Homo sapiens: one gene and its partner. The protein of the gene in region 2 interacts with the protein of the main gene of each other region in a pairwise test. Each region holds a gene or a part of one and is shown on either strand. Other genes may lie near its edges.

Region 1 (3,842 bases), on a different chromosome or scaffold from region 2:
CTTACTTAAATTTATCAGCTCAGATGTTAATACCTAAGCACTATTGTCTAGTTGCGAGGTATTTTAAAAATCTTTCACATCACCTTCTTAAATGTCATATATTTTTAAGTTATGCTTTACAAAGAAGCTAGCATTTTATTTATTTAGTAAACCTAAATTTAAATTTTGTTTTTACTGATTAAAGTAATTCATCTTTCTTTCTCTAATCTGATGCATATCATTTTCTTCCTTTCTTGTTCCCAGGGATCTCTCAATGCTATTTGCCTTCATTAGCTTGCTCGTTATGCTTCCCACTTGGTGGATTGTGTCTTCCTGGCTGGTATGGGGAGTGATTCTATTTGTGTATCTGGTCATAAGAGCTTTGAGATTATGGAGGACAGCCAAACTACAAGTGACCCTAAAAAAATACAGCGTTCATTTGGAAGATATGGCCACAAACAGCCGAGCTTTTACTAACCTCGTGAGAAAAGCTTTACGTCTCATTCAAGAAACCGAAGTGATTTCCAGAGGATTTACACTGTGAGTTCATTTTTTATTTTATTTCTTAAATGATTATTTTCTATTCCATAAAGGAGAATATTTATTACCTATTTTCATTTCTATGTTGCATTTATAGGAAAAAAAAGTGCTTTTCTCTTTAGTACTTACTAAAGTCAATTAACTGCTAAGTGAAGGAATAAATACATTATGTGCTAGATTTAATATGTAGTATGATTCTGCCTATCTGCTTTGAGGAACTAAAGTACTTTGGAGATCATGATTATTTCTGTATGTTACCATGTGATTATATGAGATAATATATAGAGAGTGTCTGATACTGAACCTAACGTGCAGTAGTTACCCAGTAAATGCTTGCTCCCATTACTCCCTTTCAAATGCCTTCTTTATGATAGACGTATCTGCTATAAATGCATTTTGAAAACTCTTGACATGTACTAATAACTGTTCAGGTAAATATTAGCAGATATTATAGCACTGATACTCTCAGAATATCATGCAAATAGTGATGTTTTCCATTCTTACAGGAAATTAAATATTCACCAGTCTAGCTGTAAGTATATTAAGCTGTAGGATATATTGACTACTTAATCTATTATTAAAGGGAAAGTTACATTTATTGAGCACCAACTATATTCCATATACTATGCTAGTCACTTTTGCATACAACTAAAGGCATAGAATTATAAATGGTAAATATTCATATCCATTCCATCTGATTCTAAACCCGGCTTGCAGTACACTGGACACCTGCCAAACACTAACAGATGACAGTTGTGTGCTAGTATATTTAATAATTTATATAACCTATATAACTTTTGCAATCTATAGGTGGGGGAAAGTAAGCATATGGTGAAGAACATTCATAGCTCTTAATTAGTCGTATCTAGAAAATCATGAAAAGAGGGAGTGAAGAACCTCTGGTAGCCATCGCATCCTTCACTCTGTTCTGCTCTAGAACATTACACAATCTTGAGATAAACACTGTTTCTAAAAAATCATGGAATAGAGAAATGGAAGAATCCCAGTAGTTATCTTGTTCTTTACTCTCTTGTGTTCTACACACAATCCCAAGACATAAGATGGATTTTATAATTTCTCTTTCTTCTCAATCAAAGTATAAAAGTCAGCCAGGCACAATGGCTCACACCCGTAATCCCAGCACTTTGGGAGGTCGAGGCATGAGGATCACTTGAGCCCAGGAGTTCAAGACTAGCCTAGGCAATCTAGCAAAACCCCATCTCTACAAATAATAAAAAATTAGCCAGACGTGGTGGCACACACCTGTAGTCCCAGCTACTCGGGAGGCTGAGGTGTGAGGATTGCTTAAACCCCAGGAGGTTGAGGCTGTAGTGAGCCAAGATTGTGCCACTGCACTCCAGTTTGGGCAACAGAACTGGAGACAACAGATTCTGTCTAGGTTGGGCAACAGACTTGGTCTCAAAAAAAAAAGTATAAAAGTTCTTAGCATCTGTTGATTTTTGTCGTTGCATTAGTTGAAGTCTACTTCTTATTGACTTAAAGGATAGCACGTTTTTAAGTTGTTTAAGTGTCAAATTTTAAAAGTTTAAAAAAATCATGCTTAAAATAAGTAATATTTCCGGCCGGGCACGGTGGCCCACACCTGTAATCCCAGCACTTTGGGAGGCCGAGGCGGGCGGATCACGAGGTCAGGAGATCGTAGCTATCCTGGCTAACACGGTGAAACCCCGTCTCTACTAAAAATACAAAAAGAAATTAGCCGGGCGTGGTGGCGGGTGCCTGTAGACCCAGCTACCCGGGAGGCTGAGGCAGGAGAATGGCATGAACCCGGGAGGCAGAGCTTGCAGTGAGCCGAGATCGCGCTACTGCACTCCAGCCTGGACGACAGAGCGAGACTCCGTTTCAAAAACAAAAAAAAAGTAATAGTTCCTTTTTATTTTATTGAGAGGACTTACTGGTTGAACAAAGTGGCTTTGTTCAACTAATGGTTAGGCGTGTATAGAGGATTCTGTGCCTTGTGTCATTTTCCAACTTTATCTGTCCCCATGGAATTTGCACGAAGAGGTAAAGTGGGCCAGTTAGACATGATTTACCTTCCAGATTATGACTTCTACCCATTCAGATGACAGACGAAGAGAAGTATTGGAAGAAATTGTGCTTCCTTTGTCTCTATCTAACTGGATAATGGGTTGAAAAATGAATAATAAGTCTTGAATCATAATTTTTTAGACATTTTCAAAATTAGACAGTTTTTAAAACTGATTTAGTAAAATGGAGCACAAGCAGTAGTGCCATATATTGAAATCATGAATGCTGTTTTGTTTCTGACTCAAATTGTCCTCTCTCACAAATAATTGAAACCTTTTTTGCCTTCATTCCCTTGTCTTAACATAAGCCTGTCAGTCATCATCCTCTGCTTTTTATAGATTTTTTAAAATTTGGTTTTTATAGATTTTTAATACCTGAATACATTTTAGTATGGTTTAACATTTTTAAAGTTTTGAGTTAGGTGTGTTGTTTTATAGCTTTGTGTTATAGTATAAGCAATTTACAAATGCCAATATTTTGTTTTACTGTTGGGAAAGATTACTGGTTAGGTGAAAAAATTTATCTGATAACCAGGTATTTACTCATATATACTGTAAGTTATGAAATGTAATACATTGTATGTCATTGTTACAAATTAGGTACTCCCCATTAATCTTATGGGAAGTGCCATGAAATGTGCTTCCTCTTGAACAGCTTTGAGAGTAGCTATGCTACTATGCAGTAACCCTTACTTTGCCTTTCTACTTGTATTCCCCTGTTGGCCACTGGTCCTGTTATCTTTCCACGTCCCCTACTTCATTTTGAGTAGGTAAGTGCCAGTGGCAGCAGGTGGGTAAGTAATTTTACCCTACTTTTATGAATGTACAGAATGTATTTCTATACAGTATTTTTTCTGTACAAGTGACCAAAATATGATCAGTGAACATATGTGATGAACGTATGTAAATGTATATTAAGAATTTAAAAGTGTTTATAATTAAGGTCTTCATACTTCCTATGGATATAGGTTTTGAAAACTGAATATAAAGTAGCTCTTCTCTAATATATGTTAGCAAGCATAGTGTCTATGTAAAAAAGATGTGGATTCTTAATAAATATTTCTACATTTCTGTTATATCTCAGCCAGAATCCATTGTTTCCCCACATCAGAGGAAGCCTTTGCTCTTTGAGATGTTAATTTTTTGTCTTTTTTTTAGTGGTTGTCTATATATACATATATATATATATCTAGTCACAGAAATGACTATTTTATGAGACCTGAGTTGACATATGTATAATCATTTTCTAGTGAAGATCATGAAAGAGGAATTTGT
Region 2 (3,842 bases):
GGAGTCAAACTGCGAAGGAACTCCCCACAGCACCATCTTCAGTGGCACCAAACTGGGAACAACAGCCCCTGTGCCAGGTGGCCAGGAGATTCAGCCTTTAAGCACTGAGGCAGCCCCGGGTGGTGTGAGCAGGAGCTGGGAGGAGTGGGGATGCACTGGCAAGACCCAGCCACTCCTGCTAGAGCCCACCCTTTGGGGCCAGGAGCTGCGTGGCCCAGCTGACCACCTCATACCCACAGCCCACTAGGACCCTCCTTTCACACATCCCCCAACGGTACTCTCAGGTCACTGGGGGACCTGGTCACCCTTGGCTGACTCTTGGCTATGTCTGTGCTGCCGGGCAGGGTGGGCACAGGAAGCCTAGCGCAGAGCCCTGCCCCACAAACTCCCTCCCATGGAGGGTCATGCCCCAAGGTCCCAGCAACACCTTCACTGCCCCTGCCTAAAGGTGCCCTCAGGGTCATTCCCTGAAGTCGCTGCGCTGTCCCGCCAAATGGAATCAGAATTCTAACATGACGACACAAAACCTCATCTTCTGTGTAGAGGTGGAGCCTTCCCTGGAGTCTTGGGGGCAAGCAGCGGGCGCTGGGCCTGGGAATCACAGGTCAGCAGGCGGAACAAGGATGTGTCCAGTCCGGCTGACCGGGGCCTTCCCCAGGGTCCCCAGCTCAGCTCCTGCCTTGATGCCCACATTCGCCAAACATGGCCTCGCCTTTGGTTCTGAAGTCCAGGTGGTCTCCTGGCACCTTGGAAGGCATTAGAAAGGTTACATGATTCTCCGGGAAGTCAAGAGCTGGCCCCACACTTTCCTTATAAAACTTTTTTAGAGGGAAAGTAGCAGGGAGGTTGGTGGCGCGCGGCTTGGCTAGCGATCCCCGAGCATGCAGTCATGCTGGGCGCAGGTCCCTTAAGCAGCCCCCGGCTCCTGCAGGGCGTGGGCCAGCCTGCCCGCTCACCAGCACGTTGTCCACTGGGCTCATTTGTCCCTTGGCACCGAGGTAAGGCTGGACCCCCGGAGCTCCGTCCAGACGGTGGACTAATGTATTAACTGCCTCTGTCCCTCTCTTCCCTCTGTAATTGGGTGCCTTAATCAGAAGCATGGTTGACGTTCTGGCGTGGGGCCATCAGGTCCTGTTGTGTGATTTGTACCATCTCGAGTTAAAGAGACACTGTCACCTTCCGTCTTTCGGGCAGCCTTGCGGTCGTGGATGGGTCTCTTCTAAGTTCGGTTTTGGCGTTGTCCTGTGAGAGCCTCTTCCAGGGGGTTCCAAGGCCTGGCTGCCCCCCAGTTCTGCTCTACCAGGAACTTCAGAGGAGTTTCCAGAGTGCAAGGCCAGAGAGCAGGAGGCAGCCTTCTAAGGGCAGAGCTGTGGGAGGACTTCCAGGAATCACACCTGGGAACAGAGGGTGCCCAGAGCCGTGCTGGGGCCTGACTTCCTATGATCCAGGCCCATCTGGGAGATGAGCCAGGATGTCCCTGAGCCCGGCCGCTCTGTGGGAAGGCTCGGCACAGAACAAGAAGTGGCAAGGAGTCCAAGTCCATTAACCTTCATTGAGTGCCTGGCACGGGGCTGGGCATTTTTGCTTCAAGGCGAAAGGGTTGGCATGAGGTTGGCAAAGGCGACAGTGTCACTTTAATACCGAGACTCGTAGTGGAGATAGTTTGCTGTGAGCCGAGGGGGTAGGAGGGGGCATGTGGGGAGGGCCGGGTCTTGCTGGCACCTCCCAGCCACCCGCTCCTAATGGCGTGAATGTGGTCGGATTGCTTTTCTGCTTTAACTAACGCACGCCTCCTCTGGGACCCCAGCTGAGGCCCCCACCTTGCACTGTGGGAGAGGGGTGGGACCCACTGCAAGGCTGCCTCCAGGACCTCCCGCTGACCCTCTTCTTGTCCCGTGCCTGACGGGCCCTTGCAGGTTCTTCCCAGGAGACTCTGCCGGCCTTTTCCCCACCAGCCCCAGCTTGGCCATCCCTCACCCGAGTGTCGGAGGCTCTCCAGCGTCTCTGTTCATCCCCAGCCCGCCCAGCTTCCTGCCCCTCGCCAACCAGCAGCTCTTCCGGTCTCCTCGACGGACCTCACCCTCCTCATTGCCTGGCCGCCTCAGCCGGGCCCTCTCTCTGGGAACCATACCCTCTCTGACTCGAGCAGGTAAGGGGTGCCCAGGCATTGGCAGACAGTCAGGGCTAGGGGCAGCTGGGACAGAACTGTGGATGGGTACATAGTGTAGGGAGGGCCGGGAGTGGTTAGTGTTCCTGCTGCAGAGACAGGCAGCACAGAGCTTTGAGCCTCAGTTCCCCCCAAAGAAATGGGGCTAGCTAGGAATAGGTGGCTCATGCCTTTAATCCCAGCACTTTAGGAGGCCAAGGTGGGAGGATGGCTTGAGGCTAGGAGTTCAAGACCAGCCTGGGCAACATAGGGAGACGCTGTCTCTACAAAAAAAGTTGTTTTAATTAACTGGGCATGGTGGCGTACACCTATAGTCCCAGCTATTTAGGCTGAGGTGGGAGGATCGGTTGAACCCAGGAGTTGGAAGCTGCAGTGAGCTATGATCACGCCACTGCATTCCACCATGGGCAACAGAGCAAGACCCTGTCTCAACAAAAATAAAAATAAAGTGCCCAGAATTGCCATATCATCTGGGAGCCCCAGCACGGCCCCTTAGTCCCAGCTCTGGTGACATGACCTTGGGTAAATGTGTGCACCGTGCTGTGCCCTAATCTTTTCCTCTAAAATTGCAACATGCCCCTCAGCAAAGGGGGCCACTCTAGTTATTCTAGGGGAGGAGATGCTGATAACAGCCAAGGCCCCTCTCCTCTCGTGCAGTTACAGGGCAGGCCATTTTGTACACACGCCAAGGTTTATATTAGGATGCTTTTGCTTTTCCCCTAAGCAGAGATACCCCCCTATTTTCAGGGCACCCCAGCCTGGTGGCACTTGAATGGAACTTGGGGTGGGAGGTGCCAGGAGCAGCCCTGCCCTGGGCCTGAGCACTCCGAGTAAACTCTGTGCGCACTGACCAAGGTGGCAGAGCTCAGGGACTTCTGTTTCAAGCCCCTTGGGAGGGGAGCGTGGCAATCCCAGGGCCAGTTCAGGCCTCCAAGGCAGGGGCTCCTGCCCACAGAGAAGAACAGGCAATCTCCCTGTTAAGGCTCAAGGCAGGGACACAGTAGCGACCTGTCTGAGGTAGCAGCAGAGGTCTTGGGGCGCAAGCTTGTCTTGGAGTGTCCGGTGACAGATGGGACCCCAGTCTCCATTACCAGAGTGGGTCGGGGGGAGGAGCCCGGTCTCCATCGCCAGAGGGTGGGTCGGGGGCAGGAGTTCCTGCAGGGCTTTGGCTCATGTATTCAGAGACGCGCTGGACCGGGCTCAGGTGCTGTGGCCAGAATCCAGCTTGCTGTCTCCCTGTCTGTCCTCAGTCCGCTTCTCTGCCACACACCTCATCCCTGTGTCCTGCAGCCCATGCCCAGCAGGAAGACGGCCTCTCCCAGCATCCATAGAATGGATTCTAGAAGGACCCTGGTTGGCATGCTGGGTCCTTGTGACCACCCTTATCCAGCCTATCCCCTGGCCTGGTGAGGGGAGGGTTATCTGCATGCTGCAACAGACCCTTCAGAGCCCACAGGTGGCAACAGGACATGAGGCAGTCCCTGGGTCCCACATTCAGCTCTCAGCCAGCCACTTGGAATTGGGGCCCCTGCCCTTGGGGTGCGTGCGCCTGATTTAGGAAAAGGCAGCGTGGTTGGTGATCCCTGGGATCGAGAGAACAGGCAGTTGGGGTCTGCAATTAGTGGAGAAAGTGGGACTAGATGGCTGGAAAAGCAGGCCCTTCTGTGGGAAGAAG

Evidence for each region. The genes of interacting proteins can lie anywhere in the genome.
Region 1: the proteins of TMEM201 (region 2) and VEZT interact in a two-hybrid assay, tested with the Homo sapiens proteins (one large-scale study listed by BioGRID).

The regions. Positions count from the first base shown.
Region 1 is NC_000012.12:95,266,114-95,269,955, forward strand, and holds part of VEZT (vezatin), read left to right. Parts: intron 1-243; coding exon 244-519; intron 520-3,842. UniProt on the Homo sapiens protein: Plays a pivotal role in the establishment of adherens junctions and their maintenance in adult life.
Region 2 is NC_000001.11:9,605,641-9,609,482, forward strand, and holds part of TMEM201 (transmembrane protein 201), read left to right. Parts: intron 1-1,916; coding exon 1,917-2,149; intron 2,150-3,842. UniProt on the Homo sapiens protein: Critical regulator of angiogenesis and endothelial cell (EC) migration. Promotes the migration of endothelial cells, which is essential for angiogenesis.